2 linked regions of the Homo sapiens genome follow. The protein of the gene in region 1 purifies or fractionates together with the protein of each later gene. This does not show direct contact. Each region holds a gene or a part of one and is shown in the gene's direction. Other genes may lie near its edges. The genes, in order: ZNF668 and ZNF512.

Region 1 (16,330 bases):
AACCCACTCCAGCTGCCTTGGGTAGGGTGGAGCAACAGGCAGACCCATTTGATTCAGATTCTGGTTCTTTGTCATCGTGTGACTTGGAGCAGGCTGCTCAACCGCTTTGAGCCTCAGTATTCTCATCTGTCATGGCGGCCAAGACAGACCCTGTTCCTTCGAGGAATGGGGAGGGAGGGAGGGACCAAAGCCGTGAGGATGAGGACAACTCCACCCTCCTTCCTTCCCCACAGGCCAACCAACCAGCTGCTGACAGGGGACCTGGCCATTCTCAGGACAAGAGAATGCAGGCAGGCAAATGGCATTACTGCCCCTGTCCTCCCCACCCTGTCATGTGTGATTCCAGGCACCAGGGCAGGCCCAGAAGCCCAGCAGCTGTGGGAAGGAACCTGCCTGGGGCCACAGGTGCCCACTCCCCACCCTGCAGGACAGGGGTGTCTGTGGACACTCCCACACCCAACTCTGCTACCAAGCAGGCGTCTCAGCTTTCCTCCTCCTTTACCCTTTCAGATACAATCACGCCAGCCACGTTGTTTTGAAAATTTCTTTTTTTGGGGGGCAGCAGTTTTCCTTTTTTTAAACTTAAATAAATTGTTACAAAATAGACTTTAGAAAATAAGTTACAAATTGTAGCAAAAGGCTCCCTTCCACAGGCAACTTTCCCACCGGTGGGGCTCTGCATCCGCCTCTCCCTGGTGTTGCAATCTGGCTGCTGAGGGTGGCGCTGAGAAGAGCACGGTGATGAGGCTGGGGGAAGGAGGTCCTTCAAGGACAGGGACGCGAGGAACACCCCACCCCCTCCTTGGGAAAGAAGCCAGATCTGGGTCCTCTTCACAAGGGGAGAGGAGAAGATATGGGGATGCCCGAACTACTCCTGAGAAAATGTGGAGATCAAGCCCCTCCCTGCACGCGCTCCCTCCCCCAGATTCTGATCTTTGGAGACTTGAAGTTCAGAGGGAGAAGCTGAGGTCTGCAGGCCACTGGGGTGAAGGATCCAGGAGTGGGGTCGTGGGGGTGGGTGGAGGGGGCAATGGCAAGTCCCCTCTGCCCGTCACTGGTGCCACTGGGGCTCCTGGGGGGAGAGAGAGAGGAGGTCACCAACTGAGGGGCAGACCCCGCACAGCGTGTACCCCCTCCCAGCCCTGCAGGCCATTCCCCTGCCCCTGGCCCCGGAGGCCCAGATGAGAACAGGGATTCTAGGCCTCCTAATTATTTTCCCAGCCCTGGCAAACTGGCTCCTCCCTCATATCCCTTGAGGTCATGAGAAATCTTCTATCCTTAAAGCCATTCCTTCAGCTTTCAGGTGACTCCCACCTGCCCTCTGCTCTGACAAGGCCTGTCAAGGGCCCACCATCTCAGGGCCACCCACCCTCGGTGGCCACTAGATGGAATGGGTCCGCCTCTACTAGGGGAGGTGGAGAGGCCAGCCCAGGTCCTGCTGAGGGAACCGGCCGCCCCACTCCCTGGCAGCTGCGGCTTCCAGCAGTGCTGGGTGGAGGCGATTCCCCACGGAGATGCCCTCTGATCAGGGATGTGACACGGGCTAATGACTGTTGTTGCTGCAGCTGGGCCTGGACTTCAAGGAAACAATTATCTGTGACTCAGTCCTCCAGTTAAAGGTGTGCAGAGGGTGGCAGGGTGCGCAGGTAGAAAGGGTGGTTTGGTTGGATCCTAAAAAGGCCGTTGGCAGCAGAGGGAAAAGGGGCTGAATAAAGGTTAGAGAAGAGATGGGAGCAACACTGACAGGGAAGGACCAGAGGTCTAGTTTCCAAGGAGAGGAGCAGCAGAGACAAGGCGCAGGGAAAGAGGGACAGGGAGTAGGGTGCCAACCAGTGAACCAGTTTCCGTGGCCAAGTCAGCAGGGAAGCCGTGGAGCCCATGCCCCATCCCTTGTTCCCTGGCACCCGGCCTGCTCCAGGAAAGAATGGAACCTAGACCAAACCAATGGCTTCCTCTTTTTCTCTGGAAGTCATTACTTTACTGGCTGACTCAGGAGGGTTTCCAGACACAGCAGCCAGGGGGTACCCAGTGACCTTCCCCTGAACAGAAAGACCATTCCATTCTGGCTACAGTGTAATGGAGGAGCCCAGGTAGCAGCCTCGGCCTGACCACGCCCCCACGTGCTGCCCAACCCACCCTGCTATTTGTTATACCTGACTTGCGGGTGCTCAGCTCAGCACATCCTCAAGCTACTTCTCTCACCCCATAGCCAAGCCCCCACCCACCTCTTAGAATCCCCGGGGCTCTCTCCTCTCACTCCTTGCTCCCCCACCGACTTTGGGGCTGGACTTCCCCCTCCACTGTGTGCCCACCTCCTCCTGGGACCCTTCATGCCCCCTACCGGAGCCGGCCACCGTCCACTCCTCCTGGTGCTGCTGCTGGTGCTGCACGAAGCTGATTCGGCGGCGGAAGTGGCGGGGACAATGGGGGCAGGTGAAAGGCCCCTCCCGGGGTGCATGGACCCGCCCGTGGCCCTCCAGCCGGGCAGCTGTCCGAAAGGCCTTGCCACAGATGCTGCAGCAGTGGCGCTTGGGGTCCGTGTGGGTCCTGCTGTGGTTCTTAAGAGACAGCAGGTTAGGGAGAAGTTTGGGACAGAGGGAGCACGGGTACAACCCTGTGGTGTGGGCCTTCTGGTGGTTCAGCAGGCTGCCAGCATGGCGGTAGGAGCGCCCGCACTGGGTGCAGCGGAAGGGCCGCTCCTTGTCCTCAGCCGCCATGGACGTCACCGCTTGTCCTCCCCTGGCTCTCTCCACACTCTCTCCTGGGCCTCTGGGGGTTTCTGATGGGGCCTCCTGGGCTTTCCCTTGACCAGGGAGAACCACCTGGTCCTCCCCAGTCCCGGCTTTGGGATCTCTGGCCTCCTCCATCTGGGCTGGCACCTGGCTGTGGCCCCGGGCATGAGCCTGCAGGTGGCTGGCCAGTTCCTGGTGGGACTCAAAGGCTTTGCCACAGTCAGGACAGGCAAAGGTCTGGGCGTCTATGTGGTTGTGGCTGTGGCTCTTTGTGGCCACAGGATTTAAGAACTCCTTGGAGCAGAGCAGGCAATAGTGTCGGTCTGTCTTGTTGGTGTTGTGGTTCAAGAGGCTGCCTGACTGGCAGTAAGTCTTGCCACACTGGCTGCAAGAGGAGTGGCTCCCTGGCTGCAGCTGAGAGCTGTTGTCTCTGTTGTCCCAGCTATCCATGTGACTCAGAGTAGGTCCATTGAGCTGGCAGTCACCAGCGTGGCAAGGACTCCTGTGGACACTGTCCTCTGGCTCCTCTGACCTAGTTAGGAACTGAGGAACCCAGCCTCCACTATGATTCCCCAGTCCCCCACCTACCGGCCACCCACCTGCCTTCCCTGCACCCCAGGACAGTGGCTCTGGGGCTTCTGAGCTTGCTGCCCTGATGGGGCTCTGACTGCGCTCCCCTGGCCTTGGGACTCCATCCTCCAAGTGGGGTACTGGCTCAGCACCACCCAATTGGGTCTCTAGTCCCTGGCTGCCAGTCAGGTTCGCCTCACTGGCCGCTGTGCCATCCAGGCCTCCCTGGCCATTGGCTGGCTCCCTTTCTGTCTCCTCATGCTCCCGCAGGTGCCGCTCCAAAGATCCCCGGCCAGGGAAGCTGCGGCCACAGAGGGCGCAACGCACAGCTGTGCGCCTGGACCGTCCAGCCCGTCGCCGCCGATTCTCTGAGTGCAGCCTCTGGTGGTCCTTCAGGGCCATGCGGTTGGAGTAGGTCTTGGGGCAGGTGGGGCAGCTGTACTGGCCCGTCTCGTGGCTGCGCCGGTGGTTCAGGAGGCTGCCGGCGTGGCGATAGGTCCGCCCGCACTGCCCACAGCGGAAGGGCCGATCTTCCCGAGTCGCCTTTCGGGTGCCCCCACCCCCACGCCGTTCCATGTGGACCCGCTGGTGGCTGGCCAGCTGTTTCCGCAGGCGGAAGGCCTTCCCACACTCGCTGCAGCGGAAACGTCGGGGATCTGCATGGATGCGCCGGTGGTTCTTGAGGGACATGAGGTTTGAGAAGCCCTTGGAGCAGGCCTGACAGCCAAAGTGGCCGGTCTGGTGGCTCTGCCGGTGGTTGATGAGGCTGCCGGCGTGCTTGTAGGATCGGCCACACACCTCGCAGCTGAAGGGCCGCTCAGAGCTGGCTTCAGTCTGGCAGCCCTTCTCGGCAGTCTCCAGCCTGGGCTCTATCTCCTCCCCCTTCACAGTGGTCTCCTCCCACACCTCTTCTTTCACCCTGGCCACTTCCTCCAGGGGCTCCACTTTAAGTTCTTCCTGGAGCTTCTCGACTTCTGCTTGCCCCGGCCCCTCCTCTGCCATGTGCTGGGGCTTGTTGCTGCCTCCTTCTGGGATGGGCCCAACCTGCAGCTCACTGCTACCTGCTGCCTCTGGGATGGGCCCAACCTGGGGCTCAGAGCCTTTGCAGCGAGGGTGGTTCCGCAGATGATTACGGTAGGCAGCCAGGTTGGGGTAGCAGCGGGAGCAGACAGGGCAGAGAAAGTCTCCAGTCTGGTGGATCTTGCGGTGGTTCACCAGGCTGCCCCCATGGCGATAGGTCTTGCCACACTGGTTGCAGCGGAAGGGGCGGGGCTGAGCCTCCAACAAACTTTCCCCACCCTGGATGCAGAGGCTGTCTCCCAAGGGGGTGCCTGCTCCCTCTTGAGACTTGGCATCTCCACCCTCTCCAGAGACAGAATTCACTATGTCCTCCAAGACACTGTCCACGACCATCTCCATGGCATCACCTGCCACTCCCAAGGGGCTGGGAGCCTTGTCTGCAGTAGTCCCAGAACTCTGACTTTGGTGGTGACGCTCCAGGCTCCCCAGGTCATCGTAGGTCTGACCACAGCAGCCACAGATGTGCCCATACCCTGCACTGTCCAGCGCTTCCACCTCCCGCTGCAGCTGATTCAGCAGCTCTGCTTCCGAGAGCTGCAGTGGTGGACTGCGTGCAGGGGCTGCCTCTGCCACTCCTTCCTCTTCCCCCTCCTCCTCTGAGCCCTCAGTCATGCCAGAGGAGCTGTGGGCCTGGCGCCGGTGAAGCCTGTAGCCAGCCCGCCCAGGGAAGATCATGCCACAGAGGCAGCAGAGGAAAGGCTGTGCTGAGGTCGCCTCCCCAGGCCTATGGTTCTGGAAGTGGCTGCGGAGGGCAGGCAGAGAGTCAAACTCCTTCGGGCAGAGGGAGCACTGATAGATGCCTGGTGGGTGGCAGGGCCTGTGGCTCAGCAGGCCAGTGGCATGGGGGAAAGAATGCCCACAGTCAGAGCATGTGTGAGCGGCCCCAGCCTGCCAGCCAGTGACAGCATTGGCAGAGTGGGAAGAGGAGTTGGGTTGGCCAGTGGCTGGCTTCTGGTCTTCATCCACCCCAGTGAGGCTATCGCAGAAGTGAGTGCCACCACCTTCCTCACCTGGGATGTCCAAGTTGTCAAGTAAACTGGCATCCTTCCTTTCCAGTCCTTCCCCAGTGCCTCCGCTCTCTTTATCACCCTGGAAATGGGTCTCATCCCTCTCAAGCCCACATTTGTCCCCTTCAGATTCAGCCTGCAAACAGTCCCCATCACTTTCCAGGTTGCCTTCAGCCCCATGAGGACTTTCCCCTGAAGGGTCTTGGGGAGACTCCAGGCCTTCATTGTCTTCTAGCTCCCGGGTCCAGCTCTCCGCTGCCAGGAGTTTGGCTTCTCTCCCACCGCTGGCACCGCCAGCCCGCTTCCGATGCCGCCTGCTCCGCCGCCGACTGTGCCGGCGCAAGTGGTTCTTCATGGCAGCCATGGTGTGGAAGTGCTTGGCACAGGCCCCACAACTGAAGTCTCCTGTCTGGTGGGTCTGCCTGTGGTTGATAAGGCTGCCTGAGTGGCGATAGCTCTTTCCACAGTCTCGGCAGGCAAAGGCCCTAGGAGGTGACATTGTGGTCTCTGTTCTGCTATTTTCCTTTTCCCCTGCCCCATGAGTCAGGCCATGACGTTCAAGGCTCTCAGCGTCTTCAAAGAGCAGCCCACAGATGCTACAGATATGTGCTGCTGTCTTGTCTGCTGCTGGGGTGATGTCCGTGGCCTCTTCTTCATGTTTGCACACATGGTCCTGATCTGTGTGCGGGGCTGCCTCTGCCTCCACTGGGTCAGGCGGGAGTTCTACCTTGAGGTGGCTGGGGGCACCCTCAGCCCCGATGTCTGCACTTCGGCGAGCAGCCTTGCAATGTACCCGCACGTGGTTGCGCAGGGCCATGAGATTGGGGTACTTGCGGGGACAGAGTGAGCACTGGTACTCTCCAGTCCGATGGCTGTGGCGATGGTTCACCAGGCTCCCCCGGTGGCGGTAAGCACGACCACACTCACTGCACTTATAGGGCCGATGGTCCAGGGTGGTGGTGGGGTCCTCTTCCTCTTTGTGGGTGGTCTCAGCCAGCAGCAGGGGAGCTGGTGGGACTGATGGCTGCCCATTTTCCCCAACTCCTTGCCTGGGCCTGTGATGAGCCCGCACATGGTTTTTGAGGGCAGCCGCATTGAACAGCTGCTTAGAACAGAGTGAGCAGGGGTAGACACCTGTCTGGTGGCTCTTTCGATGGTTGATGAGGCTCCCAGCATGGCGGTAAGTACGGCCACAGTCCCCACAGCGGAAAGGCCGGTATTCCTCCAGGCCACTGTCCTCCAGCTCCCCAGAGGTGCTGAGCTCCGCAGAGCCATTCAGCATCTGTGCACTGGGGAGCTGGTCCTGGCTGCTCTCATCTGTGTGCCCATTGGTGGTGGGCATCCCTTTCTCCTCCCAGCGTGGCTCCTGCCTTTCACCCTCATGGGACTGCTGGTGTTCCAGCAGCTCCCGGGGGAGCCGGAAGACACGGGGGCAGTGGGGACAGTGGTAAGGCCGATACTGGGCATGCAGTCGAGAGTGGTTCTTCAGAGCCATGAGGTTAGAGAACTCCTTGAAACAGATGGCACAGGGGTAGATGCCCAGCGTGTGGCTCTGGCGGTGGTTGGTGAGGCTCCCGGCGTGCTTGTAGGTCTTGCCACACTGACTACATTTGTACCGCCGCTCCTCCTCAGCAGGAGGGGACTGGGTGGGCTCCTGGCCCCCTGTGAAGTTCACTACTGATTCAGCCAGATACTGTTCCAAGTTGCTAAGAAGGCTGCTGGCTGGGATGGGGAGAGGAGGGGCTCTGGCAGAGTTAGTGGAGGGTCCCCAGCCGTCTGCACCATCCTCAGGACCTGGGTGGCTTGCCAAGCCTTCTCTTTGTCTGGTGGGCAGATCTTCCCACGTACCCGAAGCTGCCCTGGGGTCAGGTACAGATTCACAGTCAGGTGTCTCTTCTGTATGTTTTGTCTGGTTTTCCCAGCCTTCACTAGAGCCAAGCCTTTGGCCCCAGGAGTCAGTGGACACCGTCTCACCCTGGAGGTGTGGAGTGGCTTCCTTGGGGCGTGGGGGCCTGTGCCTGCGGCGGCCCTCAGGAGCATGTGTCCTCATATGGCTCTTGAGAGCCATGGGATTGGAGAAGTCCTTGCCACAGGTGGTACAGGGGAAAAGGCCAGTCTCGTGGGTCCGACGATGGTTAACCAGGCTCCCGGGGTGACGGTAGCCCCGCCCACACTGCTGACAACGGTAGGGCCGAGGGATGCTGTCAGCCTCCTCACTGTCCTGGTTGGGAGATGGATGGAGCAGTTCTCGGTGCCGAGAGAGCTCTGGGAGGCTGGGAAAGTGGCGCTGACAGTCGGAGCAGCTGAGTGAGGGGGGTGTGTCCTCCATGGGGCAACGTAGCAGAAACCTGGAGGTTCAGAAGGAGCAGACACGTGGCAGCACCTTCCTCTGGTGGAGGGGCCAAGGCCTAGGAAGAGGGGGCAGTGGTCAAAAGGAAGGCCTGAATTAACTTCGCCTCTTGGCTCTACGAGCAACAAGTTCACCTGAGGTCACTGAGAGGTTCCCCAAGCATCCATGCCCAAGGACCTAATTTCTACTAGATCCAATCTGCAGGCACCATCATTTAAGGCTTCCCTGTGCACAAGCTTCCCAAATATAGGAGCTCCCCTAGGCTTAAGTCATCCCTACAGGTATAGCTAAGGAAATTAAAGTTGAGAGAGATGCAACCTACTTCTGATCACAGACCTGTTATGTTCTTCAGACCAGACTCAAAAGGCATTACTGTCCTTTAAGAACAGTAGGAATCTGCTCCCTACAATCCTGAAACAAAAATTTTCTGTGACATCTTAAAAGGACACCAAAACCTTCTCTAGGCCTTTCAATAAGAGAAGTCCAAATCTTCCTACTTCATCTCTCAGCTAAACAGAGTAGCTGAGAAGCACTGAAAAAGCAGCTGTTTCCTCCAGTTAATAGCTGAGGACCTGAGAGGAGAGGTTAGAGGCCTCCTTCAGGGAAAGGGCTGGCTTGTTCCCCCACCACCCCGAGTCATTTCAGTGTCACAAGGTCTCTTTTCCTTGTGACAAGAGAGTTAAGAGAGTTAAGACTCTCTTAACTGGGCCAGGTGTGGTGGCTCACGCCTGTAATCCCAGCACTTTGGGAGGCCGAGGCTGGTGGATCACCTGAGTTCAGGAGTTCAAGACCAGCCTGGACAACATGGTGAAACCCTGTCTCTACTAAAAATACAAAAATTAGCCGGGCGTGGTGGTGGGCACCTGTAATTCTAGCTACTCAGGAGGCTGAGGCTGAAGAACTGCTTGAACCTGGGAGGTGGAGGTTGCAGTGAGCTGAGATCCCACCACAGCACTCCAGCCTGGGTGACAGAGCGAGACTCCATCTCAAAAAAACAAAAAACCCCAAAAGACTCTCTTAGCGACTTCTTTTATCTACTTCCCTTGAACTCAAACTATCTTCCATCTTGGGAATAACATCAATACCAGGTTGTAATGTCACTTCATTGCCTACCTTTTCTCTCCCATGCCTCCTGATCTTACCCTCACCAGTCTTTCTCATTTTTTTCTTCTGCCTCCTCTCTTAATACTGATGATGACAGCAACTCATGAAGAGTATTATATTACCATGTGCCAGGCACTGTGCTAACTATATTCATTGTGTTACTCAATCCTCAGAACACACGGCAATGCCTGTTATTCTAGTTCACGTAACAGCAAACCCCCTGACTGAGGCGGTCTTCATCCCAAAGCCCTTGCTCTCTCATGCCCCCTACATCGTCTTGTCCTTCTCCAACTCTGACTCTTCTTCCCATGGGACCCCAGTACAACTGTCTCCGACCGTAAACCCCTTCACTGAACCTGCCCCCGGAATTCTCACCTCACAAAGCCCCTTTGATCAAAAGTCCCCTCCCCTAGTCAACCACCAATGAAGTCCTCTGACCTCACTCATCTCGTCTGCCAATTTCCTCTCAGGACGCCTACCTCGCACCGGCGGCCCCCTCTCCTTCCCGCCGCGGGCGCGTCAGTTGGGGACCGCGAACAAGAGCGCGCCTGCGCACTGGGACCCTTACCCTAACTGCAGCCGCGCGCCCCAAGGGGTGGCTGTCGGGGGGCTCTCGCGCTCCCACACACGCACACTCAGCCAGGGTTCCCGGGAGGTGGGAGGGAAGGGAAAGAGGGAAAGGAGAAGGGGGGAAGAGGAAGGAGGTAGAGAAAAGAGGGCGCAGCTGGCATGAGCCAGGAGTCTACTCCCAGCTCTACGGACACTTCCTATTGTTACTAGGAAACAGGAAGTGTCCTTAGGTGCAAAAGCTTCCCCGCGAAACTTCCGCTTCGGGAGCACTGCCTGTCCCGCCTCCGAGCCGCAGTTTTACGCAGACACACTTCCGGCGCTAAGTTCTAGGTCTGCACGGCTGACTCCGCCCACGTAGGTCACAACGCGGCGTCTTTGCACGCTAAGCTAGCCACACTTCCGGCAAGAGCAGCTAGAATCGTTCCGGTGCATATTGAATAGGCGCAGAAAGGGAGAAAAAGATTCTACAGCCCTGGCCACAGTACTTTGGTGACACTTTTCGTGGGGCTCTCTGGAGGACTTTTCCCAAGGCAGATGGAGAAAACTTCGTGAAACCCACTCCTTGCTATTAAAGGAAATGTTGTGGAATATAATTGGACTTAGGTTTTGCAGAGCTTGAGCATGGCCTTTTTGTCCTCCCACCTTCTGGTTCTTGAAGACATTGCCGGTGACCTGGCCCCAGACTAACACAAGGCGGGCGTATACCGTCAGCCTGCCTGGCGTCCCCTTGCCTCAGCACACACAGAGACCTCTTGCAAGATGCTTCTCTGCCGCCATAGGCTGGAGGTTCCCCGGGAACTTTCCCTTCCTTCCTAGCTGAGGAAGATCCCTCACTTCCGCTCGCCGCGCCACCGGTCCCACCTCCCCGCCCCCCGCTGGGTCCTAGCGCCGGCCCCTGTTTGGCAGGGTCCGGGCTCCGTCGGTGCGAGGAGCCGACGCCGACGCCACGGAGTCAGCACAAGTCTCATCAGGTAGGAAACGTCGGCGGGAAGCCGCGAGGGCCCCGGGCAGCTCCCACGCGGCCACGATCCGAGCTGGCCTCAGTTTCCCTGCGGGCGCCGAGGGCGGGCCGGGTTGGCCCAGCGCGAGCAGCGCGGGCGGGGCGGGCTGTGAGCGGCCCCGGGCGCATTGCGGGCCCAGCAGGTCCTAGAACCCGCCGGCTGTCTCCGCGGTTCTGGGCTGCGGACACCCAGGCTCGGCCCGCGCGGCTGCTGGCCCGGCGCGGTGTGGTCCCGGGGGTCCTAGAGCCCGCCATGTTTTGGGTTTTTGTCCCGGTCGCGTGGCCCGCGCTGCAAGATCCCAGGCGCCGGCGGCCCCCTCCCCTGCTGAGGCCCGGCCACCACTCCCGCGGTCCTAGAGAACGCCATCTTGCAAGCCTTTGTCCCTCATTCGGCCTTCCGTCCATTCATTTGTTCATCTCCTCATCCTTCGTTCAGTCCTCCTTGCCACGTCCTCCGAAGCCACGTTTTCTGAGGCTTATAACCGGGGTCCTGCCCTCCAGGGGCTGCCTGGCTGGCGGGGGCGCCGCGTACAGACGGTTGCGAGGAGCGAGGAGCTCCGGGTTTCTGCAACTCTCGGCTCCTCGGCGCGCTTCGTAGGCCCCACCGCCCTTCAAACTCCCACAAACTTAAGGGACCCCATTTTACTGATGAGGAAACTGAGGTCCAGAGCGGCGTGGGGCCCTTACCTCTCTACTGCCATAAAGTATTCCTGAGGGCACTAGGGAAGGGGGTTCTTGAAGGATGTAAAGGGGCTTTCCCGTTGGAGAAGGCAGGCAAGGGCTCCCCGAGCCCAGGAAACTGCATCTAGAGGTGGAGGATTGAGAATTGTGGCTGGAGGTTCGGTCGCTGCCGGGAGGAGGACTCTGTCGCTGGAGCTGAGGCTGGAAAAGTAGGTTGGGATCAGGTTGTGAACTGGCCCGGTAGGAGGCCTAGGATATGATTAGCGCTCACTTCTGCAGGGTTCATCCGCTCACTACGTCACTCCTGGCCGTGAGGCCTGTGTGGTGACTGCTTGTTTAGAGATGGGAAGATTGAGGTGCCTCCTTTTTCTCCTCATCCCTGCCCCAGGGTCCTAGCCTAGGATTTTTGGAAATTGAATCTTTGCTTGCCTAGTGAGACAGCAGAACTTCATCCCCTTCCTAAGCCAGTAGTGAGGCAAAGCAAGGCTTCATCGCCACGACAGGGAGCCCACTGTGGGATATTGGGGCAATAGTTGAGCCTTGTGGAGTTGGAAAGGTGGAGGAATTTAGTTAATAAACAGTTATTGGTGGACATTCTCACAAACTCCTACTGTGGAGGAGGCAGAGGCTACAGACCTGGGTTCAAATTTCATCTGAGGTTGGTTCTTTCCATTTGTTTTGGGTCACCACACAGGGTTCTGGGTGTAGAGGAGGCAGATGATCGGTTTCCTAGCCCTTTGCCAGCCTGGACTCTGGTGCTGGTGATGAAGAATTAACAGCCAAACCATAAGATGTGTAATGCTAGCAAAGCAATAGTCAGGGCTCAGAGAGCAGGTGTTTGGGATTTGAACACTGGCTGGGACCGTGACTAGTAAGCTTGTTTCTTTGTGGTGTCACTTCTCATAAGAACGCTAATCCTACTGGACCAGGGCCATACCCTTATGACGTCATTCAGCCTTAATTACTTCCATAAAGGCCTTGTCTCCAAATACAGTCACAATGAGAGTTAGAATTTCAATATATGAATGGACAGGGAACACAAACATTCACTCATAATGAACTGCTAGGCAGCTGTGCAGTTGGCTTGAGTAGTTGAGTATTATGCACAAAATGCTTAGAATGATACCTTGCCCATGGTAAGCTTGCAAGGAGTATTGTCCAGATGACACCATAAAGGAAATTAGAGAGGAGGGGTGCTGGTCACTGTGGCTCATGCCTGTAATCACAGCACTTTAGGAAGCCATAGTGGAGGAGCATCTGAAGCCAGGAGTTCTTGAGACCACTGTCGGCAGCGTAGTGAGACCTCCATCTCTATATACAAAGAATTTTTAATAAATTAGCGAGGTGTGGTGGTGGGTGCCTATAGTCCTAGCTACTCAGGAGGATTGCTTGAGTGCAGGAGTTTGAGGCTGAAGTGAGCTATGATTGAGCCACTGCACTCCAGGGTGACAGAGTGAGACCCAATCTCTAAATAAAAATAAAGGCCAGGCACGGTGGCTCACGCCTGTAATCCCAGCACTTTGGGAGGCTGAGGCGGTCGGATCACTTGAGGTCAGGAGTTCGAGACCAGCGTGGCCAATGTGGTGAAACCCTGTCTCTACTAAAAATACAAAAGTTTGCCAGGTGTGATGGCTTTCGCCTGTAGTCCCAGCTACTCGGGAGGCTGAGGCTGGAGAATCACTTGAATCCGGGAGGTGGAGGCTGCAGTGAGCTGAGATGCAGCCACTGCACTCCAGCCTGGGCAACAAAGACTTTCTCTCAAAGAAAATAAATAAATAAAAATGAAATAAATAGGCCGGGCATGGTGGCTCAAGCCTGTAATCCCAGCACTTTGGGAGGCCAAGGTGGGTGGATCACCTGAGGTCAGGAGTTCCAGACCAGCCTAGCCAACATGGCCATCTCTACTAAAAATACAAAAAATTAGCTGGCTGTGGTGGCAGGCACCTGTAATCCCAAATACTTGGGAGGCTGAGGCAGAAGAATTGCTTGAACCCAGGAGGCAGAGGTCGCAGTGAACTGACATCACACCATTGCACTCCAGCCTGGGCAACAGAGGGAGACTCTGTCTCAAATAATAATAACAATAAATAATAAAATAAATAAAAATAAGCCAGGCACGGTGGCTCATGCCTGTAATCCCAGCACTCTGGGAAGCCGAGGCAGTGGATCATCTGAGGTCAGGAGTTCGAGACCAGCCTGGCCAACATGGTGAAACTCCATCTCTACTAAAAATACAAAAAATTAACCAGGCGTGGTGGTGGATGCCTGTAATTCCAGCTACTCGGGAGGCTGAGGCAGGAAAATCTCGTGAACCGGGGAGGCGGAGGTTGGAGTGAGCAGAGATGGTGCCATTGCACTCCAGCCTTGGCAACAAGAGTGAAACTCTGTCTCAAAAATAAATATATAAATAAAAATAAAAACATTTTTTAAAAAGTAAAGAGGGCTGGGTGCGGTGGCTCATGCCTGTAATCCAAGCACTTTGGGAAGCCAAGGTGGGTGGATCACTTGAGGTCAGGAGTTCAAGACCAGCCTGGCCAACATGGTGAAATCCTCTCTCTACTAAAAATACAAAAATGAGCCAGATGTAGTGGCGGGCGCCTATAATTCCAGCTACTCGGGAAGCTGAGGCAGGAGAACCGCTTGAACCCGGGAGGCGGAGGTTGCAGTGAGCAGATATTGTGCCATTGCACTCCAGCCTGGGGGACAGAGTAAGACTCCGTCTCAAAAAAAGGGCCGGGCGCGGTGGCTCACACCTGTAATCCCAGCACTCTGGGAGGCCGAGGCGGGCGGATCACGAGGTCAATAGATCGAGACCATCCTGGCCAACATGGTGAAACCCCATCTCTACTAAAAATACAAAAATTAGCCGGGATTGGGCCGGGTGCAGTGGCTCACGCCTGTAATCCCAGCACTCTGGGAGGCCGAGGCAGGTGGATCACGAGGTCAGGAGATTGAGACCATCCTGGCTAACACAGTGAGACCCTGTCTCTACTAAAAATACAAAAAATTAGCCGGGCGTGGTGGCGGGCACCTGTAGTCCCAGCTACTCAGGAGGCTAAGGCAGGAGAATGGCATGAACCCGGGAGGCGGAGCTTGCAGTGAGCCAGGATTGTGCCACTGCACTCCAGCCTGGGTGACGGAGTGAGACTCCGTCTCAAAAAAAAAAAAAAAAAAAAAATAGCCGGGCGTGGTGGCGGGCACCTGTAGTCCCAGCTACTTAGGAGGCTGAGGCAGGAGAACTGCTTGATAGATAATCATGAGATTCCGTCAAAAAATAATAATAATAATAAAGAGTAGATAGAGAATGATTATCAGGGGTAAAGATAGCATTGAGAAAGGTAGTCATTCAGTGCTCCTTGGTTGGTTAAAAAAGGAAAAAATTTGGAATATTAAAAGGGGGGAAGAAAAGGAAAGGTGGTCAAGAAAGCTCTTTTTGAGGAGGTGACTGGGAGCTGAGATCCAAATAACACCAAAAAAGACAGCTACACAAAGATCGTGGGAGAAGAGTGGCTCAGACAGAGGGAACTGCTAGTGCCACTGCCCTGAGGTGGGAAGGAATTTAGCTCTTTGAGGAGAAGAAAGGAGGCCTCTGTGGGTAGAGCCCAGTGGGCCAGGGAGAGGAGTGGGAGGTGAGGTAGGCAGGTGTGTGTGTGTGTGTGTGTGTGTGTGTGTGTGTGTGTATTTTTAGTAGAGATGGGGTTTCACCATGTTGGCCAGGCTGGTCTCAAACTCCTGGCCTCAAGTGATCTGCCCAGGTAGGCAGGATTTAGATGGTTTGGGGCTATGCTGGCCATGGAAAAGATATTGGTCTTTTTCCTGGGAGCAGTGGGAAGTCTCATGATTCAACCTGGGGGAGAGAATGGAGACTTGGGTTCGAGTCTGGCTCCTTGACCAGCTGTGTGTCCTTGTGTACAGTTTTTCCTTTGTGGGGACCTTAATCTCAATATCTGAAAAAGAGGTGTAGTGAACACTTAAAATGCTCCTCTCCTGAGAGCTCGTGGAGACCTAAGGATGTGTGTTTGGTTCTTAAGTATTGGTTGGGCAGGCACGGTGGCTCACGCCTGTAATCCCAGCACTTTGGGAGGCTGCGGTGGGAGGATCACTTGAGCCCAGGAGTTCTAGACCAGCCCAGGCAACATAGCAAGACTTCATCTCTACTAAAAATAAAATAAAAATTAGCCAGGCATGATGGTGCATGCCTGTAGTCCCAGCTACTTGGGAGGCTGAAGTGGGAGGATTGCTTGAGTCTGGGAAGTCAAGGCTGCAGTAAGCCATGACTGCACCACTGCACTCCAGCCTGAGCGACAGAGTGAGATCTTGTTTCAAAACCAAACAAACAAAAGTATTGGCTGGAATGATCCAGAGTGTATTTAAAATACAGATTCCTGAGGCCTACCTCAAGCTCTTTAATAAAAAAAAAAAAAAAAGTCTGGGCGTGGTGGCTCTCGCCTGTAATCCCAGCACTTTGGGAGGCCGAGGCGGTCGGATCACGAGGTCAGGAGATTGAGACCATCCTGGCTAACACAGTGAAACCCCGTCTCTACTAAAAATACAAAAAACTAGCCAGGTGTGGTGGCAGGTGCCTGTAGTCCCAGCTACTCAGGAGGCGGAGGTTGCAGTGAACCAAGATCGCGCCACTGCACTCCAGCCTGGGCAACAGAGTAAGACTCCATCTCAAAAATTATATATATATATATATATATATATATTTTTTTTTTTTTTTTTTTTAATGGTGGGATGTTAGACAGAGACCTAGCCTACCTGGCCTCTTTGTGTAGCTGGGCGCATGCTGAGACCAACCTGGCACTCCCCTACCTTTTCCCCTGGGAAGTGCCATGGGAGGAGGGATTTCCCCTCCAGCTACCTGGTGTCTAACTCACAGATAGGAAGGCTGAGACCCAGAGCTGGCAAGAGGCAGTAGAAGGGCCAGAGCTCAGAACCACTGGGTCAAGCCCTCTGAGAGGGAAGCAGAGACATAAAGGGTGCCGGCCAGGGTCTCAGGGCAGTTCTGCAAGGATGAGAGAAGACACAGGTATGACCTGAGCTCAGGGTTCTGGTCACTGTGGGGCTGGCGGAGGCAGCAGACAAGCGTAAGAGGCCCCAGACCACTGAGCAAGACCCCAGCAACTTAAGGCAAATTAAACACCTGGACTGAAGTCCCAGCTGCTTAGGTTACCCATTGTGGGACCATGGGCAAGTCACTTAACTCTTGGAACCTCGATTTATTCCTCTGTAA
Region 2 (15,816 bases), on another chromosome or scaffold:
AGTAGAACCACAATAGAGAGTCCTTCTAGGGAATTAGCAGCCCATTTAAGAAGGAAGAGGATTGGAGCAACTCAGACAAGTACTGCCTCTTTAAAAAGACAACCTAAGAAACCTTCCCAACCCAAGTTCATGCAACTGCTTTTTCAGAGCCTAAAGCGGGCATTCCAAACAGCACACAGAGTTATAGCTTCTGTTGGGCGGAAGCCTGTGGACGGGACAAGGCCAGACAATTTGTGGGCAAGCAAAAACTATTATCCAAAACAAAATGCCAGGGACTATTGCTTACCAAGCAGTATCAAAAGAGACAAGAGGTCAGCTGACAAGCTAACGCCAGCAGGCTCAACCATTAAGCAGGAGGACATATTGTGGGGAGGAACGGTCCAGTGCAGATCAGCTCAACAGCCAAGAAGAGCTTACTCTTTCCAACCCAGACCTCTTCGACTGCCCAAGCCCACAGATTCCCAAAGTGGTATTGCTTTCCAAACTGCCTCAGTGGGGCAGCCTCTGAGAACTGTTCAAAAGGACAGTAGTAGCAGATCAAAGAAAAACTTCTATAGAAATGAAACCTCCAGCCAGGAGTCTAAGAACTTGTCCACACCAGGAACCAGAGTTCAGGCCCGAGGAAGAATCCTACCTGGTTCCCCTGTGAAGAGAACCTGGCACCGACATCTTAAAGACAAACTCACACACAAGGAGCATAACCACCCCAGCTTCTATAGGGAGAGAACCCCACGCGGTCCTTCTGAGAGAACCCGTCATAACCCCTCTTGGAGAAACCATCGCAGTCCCTCTGAGAGAAGCCAACGCAGTTCCTTGGAGAGAAGACATCACAGTCCCTCTCAGAGGAGCCACTGCAGTCCCTCTAGGAAAAACCATTCCAGTCCTTCTGAGAGAAGCTGGCGCAGTCCGTCTCAGAGAAATCACTGCAGTCCCCCCGAGAGGAGCTGTCACAGTCTCTCTGAAAGGGGCCTTCACAGTCCCTCTCAGAGGAGCCATCGCGGTCCCTCTCAGAGAAGACATCACAGTCCCTCAGAGAGAAGCCATCGCAGTCCCTCAGAGAGAAGCCATCGCAGTTCCTCTGAGAGAAGACATCGCAGTCCCTCCCAGAGGAGCCATCGCGGTCCCTCAGAGAGAAGCCATTGCAGTCCCTCTGAGAGAAGACATCGCAGTCCCTCTCAGAGGAGCCATCGTGGTCCCTCTGAGAGAAGACATCACAGTCCCTCTAAGAGAAGCCATCGCAGTCCCGCTCGGAGGAGCCATCGCAGTCCCTCAGAGAGAAGCCATCACAGTCCCTCTGAGAGAAGCCATCACAGTCCCTCTGAGAGAAGACATCACAGTCCCTCTGAGAGAAGCCATTGCAGTCCCTCTGAGAGAAGCCATTGCAGTCCCTCTGAGAGAAGACATCGCAGTCCCTCTGAGAGAAGACATCACAGTCCCTCAGAGAAAAGCCATCACAGTCCCTCTGAGAGAAGCCATCACAGTCCCTCTGAGAGAAGACGTCACAGTCCCTTGGAGAGGAGCCGTCACAGTCTCTTGGAGAGGAGCCATCGCAGTCCCTCTGAGAGGAGATCTCACAGGTCCTTTGAGAGGAGCCATCGTAGGATTTCTGAGAGAAGTCACAGTCCCTCAGAGAAGAGCCACCTCAGTCCCTTGGAAAGAAGCCGTTGCAGTCCCTCTGAGAGGAGAGGACACAGTTCCTCTGGGAAAACCTGTCACAGTCCCTCTGAGAGAAGCCATCGCAGTCCCTCCGGGATGAGGCAAGGGAGGACCTCTGAGAGGAGCCATCGCAGTTCCTGTGAGAGAACCCGTCACAGTCCCTCTGAGATGAGGCCAGGGAGGCCCTCTGGGAGGAACCATTGCAGTCCCTCTGAGAGGAGCCGACGCAGTCCCCTTAAGGAGGGACTCAAGTACAGTTTCCCTGGAGAGAGGCCCAGCCATAGTTTGTCTAGAGATTTCAAGAATCAAACAACTCTCCTCGGGACCACACATAAAAATCCCAAAGCAGGGCAAGTGTGGAGGCCTGAAGCTACTCGATGAGGCGAGGTCCGCCCCTATTATTCATTGTCCTAAGTCTTCATCGTGCTGCCCTTTCCAGGCTTCTTTCCTGCTCAGCCACTGCCTCCAATTCCTGCGCCCCCAGCGTGGAAAGGCTTCCATTTCTCTCTACCGGGGGGGAGGCGGGTGAGAATGGGTCTGTAATTTCTCTAAGATGAATAAAGGGGCAGTAAATGATCTTCCTGTGCATCTGGACTGAGACCACTGGGCGGGTGGATGGGGAAGGCAGGCTGGAGGGACACGAGGAGTTGTGCAAAGATTCGGAATGAGAGCCAGGGGTTTTGAGGCCCAGCCGAGGCTCCAAGCTCCGCCCCTTCACTCCAGACCCCACCCATAGGTTCCCGGGTCCCGCGTCGCGATCCCAGTGGGGCGGGGTCTCAGAGGAATCGGAGGGTGACTCATCACGTGACTCGCTCCGGCCGCAGCCCCCTCGGAAGCTGCTAGGCGGAAGTAGAAGTTCAGAAGAGGGCTAGGCGGAGCCGAGCCCACATCCGGGAGAGGAGAGCGGAAGTGGCGTTGGTCTGGCCGGAGCCCTTGGGTGAAATTGTTAGGCGTGGAGAGGGAGTGATGTCTTCCAGACTCGGTGCTGTACCCGCCGTGAGTTTCTTGGTTTGACCGTTATGCTTTAGAGGTAGCGCTGTCGAGCCCGGAACACGCGGTCCCTCGCTTTTGTCCCATGCTGAGTTGGTTTTATCAGAGGCCATCGTAGGCCCCACCCTTCTAGATCAGATCACCTGTCCCTTTTTCTTTACCCACGTTCTGCTGCCTGTTCCCCACCTCCTTGGATTTAATTCCTCGCCACATTACCATTAGTTTCTATTCCTTTTACATCCCCAATGTCTCTCATATCCGTTGTCTTTTCTTTTGGCCTCCCTTTTAGAGCCTGGGACAGGGCTTTGAGAATGGGGGAAGACGAAGGCTCTGGTATTGTTACCCGCCTTTGCACTGCTGGAAGATAGGACAGCATATTTTTCCTAAAAGGTGTTGCCTTCTTGTGTTTGAGGTGGTTTCCCCGGGAGAACTTCATTTCTTCTGGGCATAGGGGAATTCGTCTTTTTGTGGTCGAGGTTCAGAGGTCCCTAGCACTCACTCGTGTGCTTGTGATTTGCTAGACTTCGGGACCCACAACCTTTAAGCAGCAGAGGAGCACGAGGATCGTGGGAGCTAAGAAGTAAGTGAGGTTTTCTAAGGTCCTTTTATGATTGTGTCACCAGCGCTGACCAGTAGAACTTCTTCCTGTGATGAAAATGTTCTGTATCTGCATTGTCCAGTATCATAGCCACTAACCCGGTGTGGATTTTGAGCAGTTGAAATGTGGCTAGTGCAACTGAGGGACTGAATTTTAAATTTTATTTGCCAAGTGAGTGAGGTTTTTCTAAGGTTCTTTTGTGATTTTGTGGCCAGCGCTGTCCAGTGGAACTTCTTGTGACGAAAATGTTCTGTATCTGCACTGTCTAGTATCATAGCTACTAGCCCCGTACGCCTTTTGAGCGCTTGAAATGTGGCTAGTGCGACTGAGGGATTGAATTTTAAATTTTATTTAATTTTAACTAACGTTAAATAGCCACCTGTAGCTCGTGGCTATCGGATTGGACAGTGTAGGTCTAAGTCTAGTGTGTGGGAGAAAAACCTAGCTTGCAAAAAAAAAGTACAAATTGTAATAAAAATGGAACCAAAGACTCAGTGGTAATTCTGTATTTCTCCAGACATGAAATTCGTGCTCATAAATACACTGATGAACTTGGGATGGATGATAAAAATGGCCGTAAGAAATCCTTGTATTTTTAAACTACTTGTCTGTAAGACTGGTTTATTATTTAGTACACTGAAGGTGCTTAGTTTTTCCATGGTTAATACAAAAGAAAACATTCTTGTTAACTAGACATTAAATGGATTCATTCATTCAGGTGACATTTACTACATGTTTGCTGTGCGCCAGTTCTGTAGTAGGTTAGGAATACAGGCATGAAAAACAACTAGCAGTCTAGAAGGGGAGATAGGCAAGTAGGTCAACACAGTTCATTGTAATAAGTAAGTATTTTTAAGTAGGAATTTAATTTAGCCTTTGAGGAAGGGGAGTGATAGTTTGGAAGGGAAGGATTATCAGAGCAGGTCACTCCTAAGTAGAAACTTGAAAGTTGAGGAATCATGCAGTTAGTGAGAAGGAGAAAGGTTTTTCAGAACAGAGAACAGCATGTGAACGTGTGGAAAGAGTTAATGGGATAGTAAGTAGTTCTGTATGTCTGGGATAGAGGATGAGGGATTGCAGGGAGAGCGTTTAGAGAGGTTAGTAGGGGCTAGACCATGGAGGACCTGTTACGGCATGCTAAAGTGTTTGGATTTTATCCTGGAAGAGATAATGAGGGAATGACATAGCCAGATATTGGTCTTAGGCCACTCTGGCAGCATTATGAAGGATGGATTTGGAAGGGTACTGGGAAACTGGTTCAGAGGTTATTATGATAACCTAAGAGATGAATAAAGAACATGTAGCCTATGGTGGGAACAATATACAGGGAATACGTAGGGAACAACGTATAGGGAATGTACAGGTGGTGATGATGAGAAGTGAGTAAGAGAAGGAAGATAGGATGTCTATGGGTTTCTGGCTTTGGCCATCAGGTGAATTTTGGAGTAATTCACAGAACTACAAATTTCTGAATGAGGAGCAACATTTGGAACAAAAACAAATAGGTTTGGACCTCAGATGAAGAGCTGGTCTGAAATACAGAATTGGGAATTATCAGCTATAAAAAATAATTGGAAACATGATGTTTTCTTCCACAAGCTGAGAGTTTTAATGAGCTCTTCTAGTTAAAGTGGTTAGAGCAATGTTTCTCAGTATGTACCTTGGTCACCTAGAGATAATTGTTAAAAAATAAGATTATTAGGCCCCCATCCATTAACCAGATTTGGAATCATTGGGTTTAGGGCATAGAAATCTTTACTTTTAACTAGCTTCCTAGGAGATTGTGACATTTGAGAGTCAATGGTGAGAAGTGAGACCAGAGAAGAGTAGAGGAGGAAATCATGGAGAACACTAGCTTTTAAAGATTGGGTAGAATTAAATAAGTTTACAAAGGATACCGAGATGAACTAAAGTACTTTTCTAATGAAATCTAAATATTTGCACATGGAAGAATGAGCTAGGGGCTCTTAAAAATTTTTGGTAGATCAGAAAGGAGTTGAAAATAGGCTAAACTTTTTATGTTTGTGATCAGAAGCTGAGAGTTGCCACACTGGTGGCAACAAATTATAAAATAAATGCAATTATGATAGTCATTGTATCACAACAAAGCTTTTTCTTGTTATATGTATGGAAAGGGAAGTTTGAGCTTAATCTGGTTTTTTTTACAAATAATCAAATGTCCTGGGGTTGATGGGTAGATATTGTAAAATACTTGAGAATTGTTTTTGTTGAGTGCTTTAAAAATAAAACATGAGACCTGGAGGAGGGATTCCCTAACCACCTTGATTTAATCTCCAAGAGTTAATTATGATCATATGAACTGTTGCCTTTTCAGTATGCTTATGCTTATTCATAAGAGGGTATATGGGTACTGTATTTCTGAGTCCTACACTGATAGTAAGAAATTCCTACATGGAGAGTTTCCTAAGAGTTATTACATGGGACTCAGCTCTTAATGGCCTGTTGGTACCATCAAGTCTTTGTTGTTGTTGTTGTTGTTGTTGTTGTTGTTGGAGATGGAGTCTTGCTCTGTCGCCTAGGCTGGAGTGCAGTGGCATGATCTCGGCTCACCACAACCTCCACCTCCTGGGTTCAAGCAATTCTCCTGCCTCAGCCTCCCGAGTAGCTGGGATTACAGGTGCACACCGCTGTGCCCTGCTAAGTTTTTGTATTTTAGTAGAGAAGGGGTTTCACAGTGTTGCCCAGGCTGGTCTTGAACTCCTGAGCTCAGGCAGTTCGCCCATCTTGGCCTTCCAAAGTGCTAGGATTACAGGCATGAGCCACTGCGCCTGTCCCATCAAGTGTTTCTAGCATTGTTTGGGATGGTAGGTTTTGGCCTTAGAGGCCTGCCAGTCCATTAATTTTTAAAAATACCTTTATTGAGGTATAATTAGAGTACAATAGACTGCACATATTTAAAGCGTACACTATGGTCAGCTTTGACGTATGTCTGTACCCGTGAAACCATTGCCACAATCAAGATAATAAACATTTTCATCTCTCTCAAAAGTTTGTTCATGTCTCTGCCATTTCTTCCTCCACTCCTGTCCACGGGCACCACTGTACAGTGGTTTGCATATTCTAGGATTTTATATAAATGAAGTCACACAGTATGTTCTCATTTTTTTCATGATTTCTTTCACTCAGAATAATGATTTTGAGATGACAAATAGTTTTTATTGCTGGGTAGAATTCCATTATGGATACCATAATTTGTTTAGCCATCTATCTTGATTGACATTTGAGTTATTTTCAGTTTTAGGGTGTCAAACAATAAGGCTGCTGTGAACGTTCATGTACAAGTCTTGTGTGGACAAATGCTTTCATTTCTTTTGATAAATATCTAAGATGGTATTTACCATCCTAGGTTGGTTGATTCATATGGCAGGAGTATGTTTAGCTTTTTAGGAAACTACCTGCTTTCCAAAGTGGTATTATTTTGCATTCCTACCAGCAATGTATGAGTCAGTCTTTTCAATTTTAGCTAATTTAATGGGTGTGTAGTGGTATCTCACTGTGGTTTTAATTCATGGGTTTTTTTTTTTTTTTTTTCTTTTTTTGAGACAGTGTCTCCCTCTGTCACCCAGGCTGGAGTGCAGTGGCCTGATCCTGGCTCACCGAACCCTTTGCCTCCCAGGTTTAACTGATTCTTCTGCCTTAGCCTCCTGAGTAGCTGGGATTACCGGTGTGCATCACCACGCCTGACTAATTTTGGTATTTTTAGTAGAGATGGGATTTCACCATGTTGGCCAGGCTGGTCTCGAACTCCTGACCTTAAGTGTTCTGCCCACCTTGGCCTCCCAAAGTGCTGGGATTACATGCTTGAGCCACCACACCTGGCCTAATTTGTGGTTTTTAATTCATCATATATGAATAATAATGTTGAGCATCTGTTCGTATTCTTTCTTTTTTTGATCTTTTTTTTTTTGCATCTGTTCATATTCTTTTTTATTTTATTTTTTTTGAGACAGAGTTTCACTCTTGTTGCCCAGGCTGGAGTGCAATGGTGCAATCTCGGCTCACTGCAACCTCCGCCTCCCAGATTCAAGCTATTCTTCTGCTCACCCTCCGGAGTAGCTGGGATTACAGGCATGTGCCGCCACGCCTGGCTAATTTTATATTTTTAGTAGAGACGGGGTTTCTCCATGTTGGTCAGGCTGGTCTCGAACTCCCAACCTCAGGTGATCTGCCCACCTTTGCCTCCCAAAGTGCTGGGATTAACGGTGTGAGCCACCGCGCCCAGCCTTCATCTGTTCCTATTCTTATTGGCCATTTGTGTGTCTACTTTTGTAAAATGTTTACATTTTTGTCCATTAAAAAAAGTGGGTTATCTTATTGAATTGTGGTATTTAAAAAAATCTGTCCTGAATACAACTCGTTTGTCTGTTATACTTCCTTCCAGTCTGGTTTGTCTTTCATTTTCTTAATGATGTCTTTTGAAGAGCAAAAGGTTTAAATTTATCATTTTTTTCTTACATTTCATGCTTTTATGTATCCTATTTAAGAAACCTTTGCCTCCCTGGAGGTCGTAGCGAGTCAAGGTGGTGCCACTGCACTCCAGCCTGGGCGACAGAGCGAGATTCCGTCTTAAGAAATAATAATAATTAAAAAAAAGAAACTTTTGCCTCCCTAATTGCAGAGATTTTCTGTGGTCTTTTCTCCTAGAAGTTTTATAGGTTTTATATTTAGGTCTGTGACTCATTTAGAGTTAATTTCTGTGAATGTTTTATGGTAAGGGTCAATGTTGACTTTTTTTTCTATTTATATACCCAGTTGTTGGAAAGAGTTTTCTTTCCCTACTGAATTGCCTTGGCATCTTTGTCAAACTTCACTTGGACATGTATATGTGTAGGTCTGTTTCTGGACTCTCCTTATTCTGTTCTACTGATGTTTATTTAGACTCTTGAAATCAGTAAGTCCTCTAACTTTAGTGTTCTTTTTCAAAATTGTTTTGGTTATTCTCAGTTCTTTGCGTTTTTATAAGAAGTATAGAATTGGGTTGCCAATATCTATTAAAAGAAGCTTGCTGAGTATTGATTGGTATTATATTGAATCTATAGATTCCGTTGGGGAAAATTGCTATTTTAACAATATTGAGTTTTCTGATTTATGAACATGCTATATTTTCCCCTTTAAGTCTTCTTAATTACTCTCAGCAATGTGTTGTAGTTTCATTGTTTTTAAAAGTCTGGAACGTCTTTTGTTAGGTTTGTTCCCAGGTATATTATGTTTTACTGATGTAATTGTAAATGGTATTATTTTTATAATGTCATTTTCTAGTTGATTGTTGCTAGTATATAAGTATTCAGTTGACTTTGTATGTTATCCTTGTATCCTGACACTTTATAAATTAATTTATTAGTTCTAGTAATTGTTTTGTAGATTCCTTGGGATTTATTTTGTAAACAATCATATAATCTGCAAGTAGGGACAGTTTTGCTTTTTTCCTTTTGATCTTGTTTTAAACCTATTGCAATGGCATTCAGCAGTGAAACTACATGGGCCTGTAGTTTTCACTGTGGGAAGGATTTCATAAATTCAGTTTATTTAATAGATATAGGGCTACTTAGATTTCCAGTTTCTTCTTGTGTCAGTTTTGGTAAGTAGTATTTTTAAAGAAATTTGTTCATTGTAATTTTTCCATTGATTAGCATAAAGTTATTCAAAGTATATTATTACTTAATGTCTACATAATCTGCGGTAACCCCTTTTTCATTTGTGATATTGGCTATTTGTAGTGTCTTTTTTTGTAGATCAGTCTAAGTCTAGCTACAGGGTTGTCAATTTTGTGATCATTTCAAAGAACCACATTTCCCCTATTGTCTGTTTTCTAGTTCATGGGTTTCTCCTCTTACCTTACCTTTTCTTTGGTTTACTTTGCTTTTCCTTTTAAGGTATCTTAAGATGAAATCTTAAGTCATTGATTTTAGATCGTTTCTAGTATAAGCATTTAAAGCTTTAAGTTTCTAAGTATTGCTTTAGTTGCATCCTACAAATGTTGATATGCATATTTTTGTTGTTTTTCAGTGCAAAATATTTTCAAATTTCATTTGTGATTTCATTTTGGACCTATGAATTATTTAGAAGTAGATTATTTAATTTGCAGATATTTGGATTTTTTGTGTTTTTTGTTTTTAGATATCTTCCTATTATTGACTCCTAAGTTGATACCAATGTGGTCAGAGAATACACTGTGTAATTCTCATCCTTTTAATAAAAGTTAAAGTTGATGGCCCAGCGTAAGATCTAGCTTAATGAATGCATAATGTGCACTTGAAAAGAATATATATCCTGCAGTTGTTAGATGTAGTGTTGTGTAAATGTTAACTAGAGCAAGGTGGCTAATAGTGCAGTTCAGATCATTTATGTCTTTTACTGAATTTTTATCTAGTTCTATCAGTTGCTGAAAGGGGGAGGTCTTAAATTTTCTGCTAAGATTGTGGAATTGTCTATTTTTCCCTTTAATTTTGTCAGTTTTCGCTTTGTGTATTTTGAGGCTCTATTATTAGGCACATACAGTGGGTAATTATGCCTTCCCAATGATTTGACACTTTTGTCATTATGAAGTGTCTCTTTTTATCTCTGGCAGTACTCTTTGTCTTGAAGTCTGTTTTATCTGATATTAAAATAGTCATTCCAGCCTTATGTTTGCTGATTGTATGATACAATTTTTTCATCTGTTTATTTTCAATCTATAGATGTCTTTATATTTTAGAGTGTGCTTCTTGTAGGTAGCATGTAGTAGGGTATCACTTTTTATTTTACTCTGTCATTTGCTGACTTTTAACTGGAGTGTTTAGACTGTAAACATTTAAATTAATTATTGATATGGTTGGATAGGTCTGCCCTTTTATTTTTTGTTCTCTGTTTATCCATTGTTTTTTGTTCCTGTGTTTCTTCTTTTGGATTATTTGAATGCTTAGTGTCTGCCCCTACTCTTGTTTTTTTAAGAGACAGTGTCTTGCTCTGTTGCCCAGGCTGGAGTTGGTGGCACATTCATTGCTTGCTGGGCTGAAGTGATCCTCCCACCTCAGCCTCCCAAGTAGCTGAGATTACAGAGGTGTGAGCCATCTACCCCGGCCTGTTTACCATTTCTGTTGCTCTTTCTTCATTCTTAAAAATCCAAGTTTCTCTCTGGTATTATTTTTCTTCAGCTGGAATCATTTGTTTTAGCATTTCATATGGAGCAGGTCTGCTTACAATGAATTCTCTTAGTTTTATTTCTTAGGATATTTTCACTGAATATAGAATTCTGAGTTGACAAATTTTTTCTCTCAAAATTTTAAAGATATTTCTTTTTCCTTTTCTTTTTTCTTTTTAGAGACAGGGTCTCACTCTGTTGCCAAGGCTGAAGCGCAGTGGTGCGGTCATAGCTCACTGAAGCCTCAAATTCCTCAGCTCAAGGGATCCTCTCACTTTAGCCTCCCAAGTAGCTGGGACTATAGTTGCATGGCACCACACCTGGATAATTGCTTTAAAATTTTTTTATTTTTATTTTTGTGGGTACATAGTAAGGATATATATTTATGTGGTACATGAGATGTTTTGATACAGGCATACAATGTGAAATCACATCATGGGGAATGGGATATCCATCCCCTCAAGCATTTATCCTTTGTGTTATAGACAATCCAATTACACTCTTTTAGTTATTTAAAAATGTACAATTAAGTTCTTAAAATTATTATTATTATTATTTTGAGACAGAGTCTCGCTCTGTCACCAGGCTGGAGCACAGTGGTGTATCTTGGCTCACTGCAACCTCCGCCTCCCGGGTTCAAGCATTTCTCCTGCCTCAGCCTCCCGAGTAGCTGGGACTACAGGCGCATGCTACCACGCCCAGCTTTTGTATTTTTAGTAGAGATGGGGTTTCACCATGTTGGCCAGGATGGTCTTGATCTCTTGCCCTTGTGATCTGCCCACCTCGGCCTCCCAAAGTGTCGGGATTACAGGCGCGAGTCACCGCGCCCAGCCTTAAAATTATTTTTTGTAGAGACAAGGTCTTGCTATGTTGCCCAGGCTGGTCTTGAACTCATGGGCTCAGTCCCCCTGCCTTGGCCTCCCAAAGTACTGGGATTACAAATGTGAGCCATTACACTGGTTCGATTTTAAAGATACTGTACTGCCTTGTGGCATTCTTGGTTTCTGTTGAGAAACCCATGGTCATTTAAATCATTTCCTGTAATGTAATATGTCACTTTTCTGAAGCTTTCTAGTTTAAAACAAAATCTTTGGCTTTGAATAGTTTCTTATTTATTTAAACAATTTTTTTGAGACAGAGCCTAACTCCCGTTGCCCAGGCTGGAATGCAGTGGCGCAACCTCTGCTCACTGCAGCCTCATCCTCCTGGGCTCAGGTGATTCTCCCACTTCAGCCTGCTGAGTAGCTGGGACTACAGGTGCACACCACCACACCTGGCTAATTTTTTGTATTTTTAATAGAGGTAGGATTTTGCCATGTTGCCCAGGCTGTTCTTGAATTCCTGGGCTCAAGGGATCTGCCTGCCTCAGCCTCCTAAAGTGCTGGGATTACAGGCTTGAGCCATTGCACCCAGCTTAGTTTTTTTATTTATTTATTTATTTTTATTTTTTTTTTGAGATGGAGTCTCGCTCTGTAGCCCAGGGCAGCTGGAGTGCAGTGGCATGATCTCGGCTCACTGCATCCTCCACCTCCCAGATTCAAGTGATTCTCCTGTCTCAGCCTCCCAAGTAGCTGGGACTACAGGCACCCGCTACCACACCCAGCTAATTTTTGTATTTTAGTAGAGGTGGGGTTTCACAATATTGGCCAGGCTGGTCTCCAACTCCTGACCTCAAGTGATCTGCCTGCCTTGGCCTCCCAAAGTGCTGGGATTACAGGTGTGAGCCACCATGCCTGGCCTAGTTTATTTTTTATTGAGTTAAAGTATACCCATATAATTTACCATGTTTACCTTTTTTTTTTTTTTTTTTTTTTTTTTTTTTGTTTGAGACAGAGTTTCGCTCTTGTTGCCCAGGCTGGAGTGCAAATGGCGCGATCTTGGCTCACCACAACCTCTGCCTCCCAGGTGCAAGCGATTCTTCTGCTTCAGCCTACTGAGTAGCTGGGATTATAGGCATGTGCCACCATGCCCAGCTAATTTTGTATTTTTAGTAGTGACGGGGTTTCTCCATGTTGGTCAAGCTGGTCGTGAACTCCTGACCTCAGGTGATCCACCTGCCTCAGCCTCCCAAAGTGCTGGGATTACAGGCGTGAGCCACCACGCCTGGCTGATACATTTATATTCTTTTTCTTTTTTTCCTCTCTTCACTCCCTCATGTCTCCCCTCCCCTTCCTGGCTGAATAGTTTCGTTAAGATGTGTCTTGGTTGGGTACCGTGGCTCATGCCTGTAATCCCAGCAGTTTGGGAGGCTGAGGTAGGAAGATTGCTTGAGCCCAGGAGTTTGATACCAGCCTGGACAACAAAGTGAGACCCTGTCTCTACACACACACACACACACACACACACACACACACACACACACACACACACAAAAGAATGAGCTGGGTACCGTGGCACACACTTGTGGTCTCAGCTACTCAGGAGGCTGAGGTGGGAGGATTGTTTAAGCCTGGGAGGTGGAGGCTGTGCTTGAGCCACTACACTCCAGCCTGAGTGACAGAGTGAGACCTTGTCTCAAAAAAAAAAAAAAAAAAAGTGCTTTGGACCAGCCTGGGCAACATAGCAAGACCCTGTCTCTATGAAAAAACACAAAAATTTAGTGGGTATGATGGTGTGCACCTGTGGTTCCAGCTACTCGGGTATGGTGAGGTGAGAGGATCACTTGAGCCAGAGAGGTCCAAGCTGCAGTGAGCCATGTGCCACTGCACTCTGGCCTGGAGAACAGAACAAGACTGTGTTTCAAAACAAAACAAAAAGATGTATCTTGGTATGTTTTTCTTTGAGTTATCCTATTTGGTGTTTGTTGAGCTCCTTGAATCTGTAAATTTATATCTGACCAAACGTGGGGGATTTTCCACCTTTTTTTTTTCAAATGTATTTTTCTGCCTTAGTATCTTTCTTTCTTTCTTTTTTTTTTTTTCCATTTAACCCTGAGTTGACACAGCACATGTTTCAGAGAGCACAGGGTTGGGGGTAAGGTTATAGATCAACAGCATCCCAAGGCAGAAGAATTTTTCTTAGTACAGAACAAAATGGAGTCTCCTATGTCTACTTCTTTCTACACAGACACAGTAACAATCTGATCTCTCTTTCTTTTCTCCACATTTCCCCCTTTTCTTTTCGACAAAACCGCCATCATCATCATGGCCCATTCTCAATGGTCACTGTCTCTTCGGAGCTGTTGGGTACACCTGCAGAAAGGCTGTCACTTCACACTTGGAAGATTGCACAGCGGCCAGTCAGAGGTGCTCCTCACTTCCCAGACAGGGTGGCGGCCGGGCAGAGGCGCTCCTCACATCCCAGATGGGGCGGCCAGGCAGAGGCACTCCTCACCTCCCGGACAGGGCGGCCGGGCAGAGGCGCTCCTCACATCCCAGACGGGGTGGTGGCCGGGCAGAGGCACTCCTCAGTTCGCAGACGGGGTGGCAGCCGGGCAGAGGCGCTCCTCACCTCCTAAACGGGGTGGCGGCCGGGCGGAGGCGCTCCTCACCTCCCAGAAGGGGTGGCGGCCGGGCAGAGACGCTCCTCACCTCCCAGACGGGGTGGCGGCTGGGCAGAGACGCTCCTCACCTCCCAGACGGGGTGGCGGCCGGGCAGAGGTGCTCCTCACCTCCCAGACAGGGCGGCCGGGCAGAGGCGCTCCTCACTTCCCAGACAGGGCGGCCGGGCAGAGGCGCTGGTCACATCCCAGATGATGGGCGGCCAGGCAGAGACGCTCCTCACTTCCTAGACGGGGTGGCGGCCGGGCAGAGGCGCTCCTCACTTCCCAGACGGGGCGGCCGGGCAGAGGGTCTCCTCCCATCCCAGATGATGGGCAGCCAGGCAGAGACGCTCCTCACTTCCTAGATGGGGTGGCGGCCGGGCAGAGGCTGTAGTCTTAGCACTTTGGGAGGCCAAGGCAGGCGGCTGGGAGGTGGAGGTTGTAGCGAGCCGAGATCACGCCACTGCACTCCAGCCTGGGCAACATTGAGCATTGAGTGAGCAAGACTCCGTCTGCAATCCCAGCACCTCGGGAGGCGGAGGCGAGCAGATCACTCGAGGTCAGGAGCTGGAGACCAGCCTGGTCAACACGGCGAAACCCCGTCTCCACCAAAAATACAAAAACCAGTCAGGCGTGGCGGCGCGTGCCTGCAATCCCAGGCATTGGGCAGGCCCAGGCAGGAGAATCAGGGGAGCCCGAGGTAGGGAGGTTGTAGCTAGGTGAGATCACGGCAGTATGGTCCAGCCTTGGCAACAGAGGGAGACCGAAGAAGGGAGAGGGAGGAGAGCGGGGAGAGGGAGAGCGAGAGCTGCATTAGTATCTTTCGCCTCTCCCTCTGGGATTACAACTACACTTAAGTTAAAACGTTTGGTATTAGGGTTTTGTTGAATGTTTTTCAATCTTTTTTTCTCTTTGTTCTTCAGACTGGTTTTTTTTCTTTTCTTTTCTTTTTTTTTTTTTTTGAGATGGAGTCTCGCACTGTCGCCCAGGCTGGAGTGCAGTGGTGCGATCTCTGCTCACTGCAGCGGCGCGATCTCTGCTCATTGCAGCCTCCGCCTCCCAGGTTCAAGCGATTCTCCTGCCTCAGCCTGCCGAGTAGCTGAGATTACAGGCACCCACCACCAGGCCTGGCTAATTCTTTTGTATTTTTAGTAGAGACGGGGTTTCACTATGCTGATCAGGCTGGTCTCGAACTCCTGACCTTGTGATCCGCCTGCCTCGGCCTCCCAAAGTGCTGGATTACAGGCGTGAGCCACTGTGCCCGGTGGAGACTGGGTCATTTCTATTGAACGGTCTTCAAGTTCACAGACTCTTTCCTCTGTCATCTCCATTCTATTACTGAACCTATCTGATGAGTTTTTATTTCAGATGTTGTATTTTTCAGTTCTAAGATTTCATTTGGTTCTTTTTTATGGTTTCTTTTTCTGCTGATGATTCCCACCTTTTCCTTCATTTCTTGTGTGTTTTCTTTATAAGAAAGTATTTCTTTTTTGTTGACAGTATTTGATAGTCCCAAAATCTGGATCACCTTGTGGCTGGCATGTTTTGGTCATTTGTTCCTTTGAAAATTGCTCACATTTTCCTGGTTCTTTATGTGTTGCATAATTTTGGAATTTATCCTCATCATTGTGAATACTTTTTGTGTAGATTTTGGGTCCTATTATAATTCTTCTGGGGAATGTTGCCGTTTCTGTTTTAGCAGGCCACCCTGCTTCAGGTTCAGGCCAAAACTTCTGTCTTGCTTTTGGAGGCATTTGTTAAAATCTCGGTTCTGTTCTTTATGTCTTTGCTATGTTGATTTGAGCTGTCCCAAACATGAATAGCTTAGGGGCTGGTCTGAGACTTCTGCAGGTGTTTCCAATCTTATTTCAGTTCTCCAAGCTTTTGCTGCTTTGGTTTGGGTCACATTAGAGTTCAAATCTCATTTTGGTTTTCAAAGTCTTTGCTAGG

The links.
Region 2: the proteins of ZNF668 (region 1) and ZNF512 purify together in Homo sapiens (affinity purification with mass spectrometry; 2 studies listed by BioGRID and IntAct, with this or other methods). This does not show direct contact.

Annotation. Positions count from the first base shown.
Region 1 is NC_000016.10:31,067,713-31,084,042, reverse strand, and holds the start of ZNF668 (zinc finger protein 668), read left to right. Parts: upstream 1-9,802; 5' UTR 9,803-10,384; intron 10,385-10,540; exon of another isoform or gene 10,541-11,356; intron 11,357-16,330. Other genes in the region: PRSS53 (serine protease 53), read left to right, coding at 234-539; ZNF646 (zinc finger protein 646), read right to left, coding at 951-1,072, 2,342-7,718. UniProt on the Homo sapiens protein: May be involved in transcriptional regulation. May play a role in DNA repair process.
Region 2 is NC_000002.12:27,580,491-27,596,306, forward strand, and holds the start of ZNF512 (zinc finger protein 512), read left to right. Parts: upstream 1-2,551; 5' UTR 2,552-2,622; coding exon 2,623-2,652; intron 2,653-2,935; exon of another isoform or gene 2,936-3,036; intron 3,037-3,167; coding exon 3,168-3,226; intron 3,227-15,816. Other genes in the region: SPATA31H1 (spermatogenesis-associated protein 31H1), read left to right, coding at 1-2,037. UniProt on the Homo sapiens protein: May be involved in transcriptional regulation.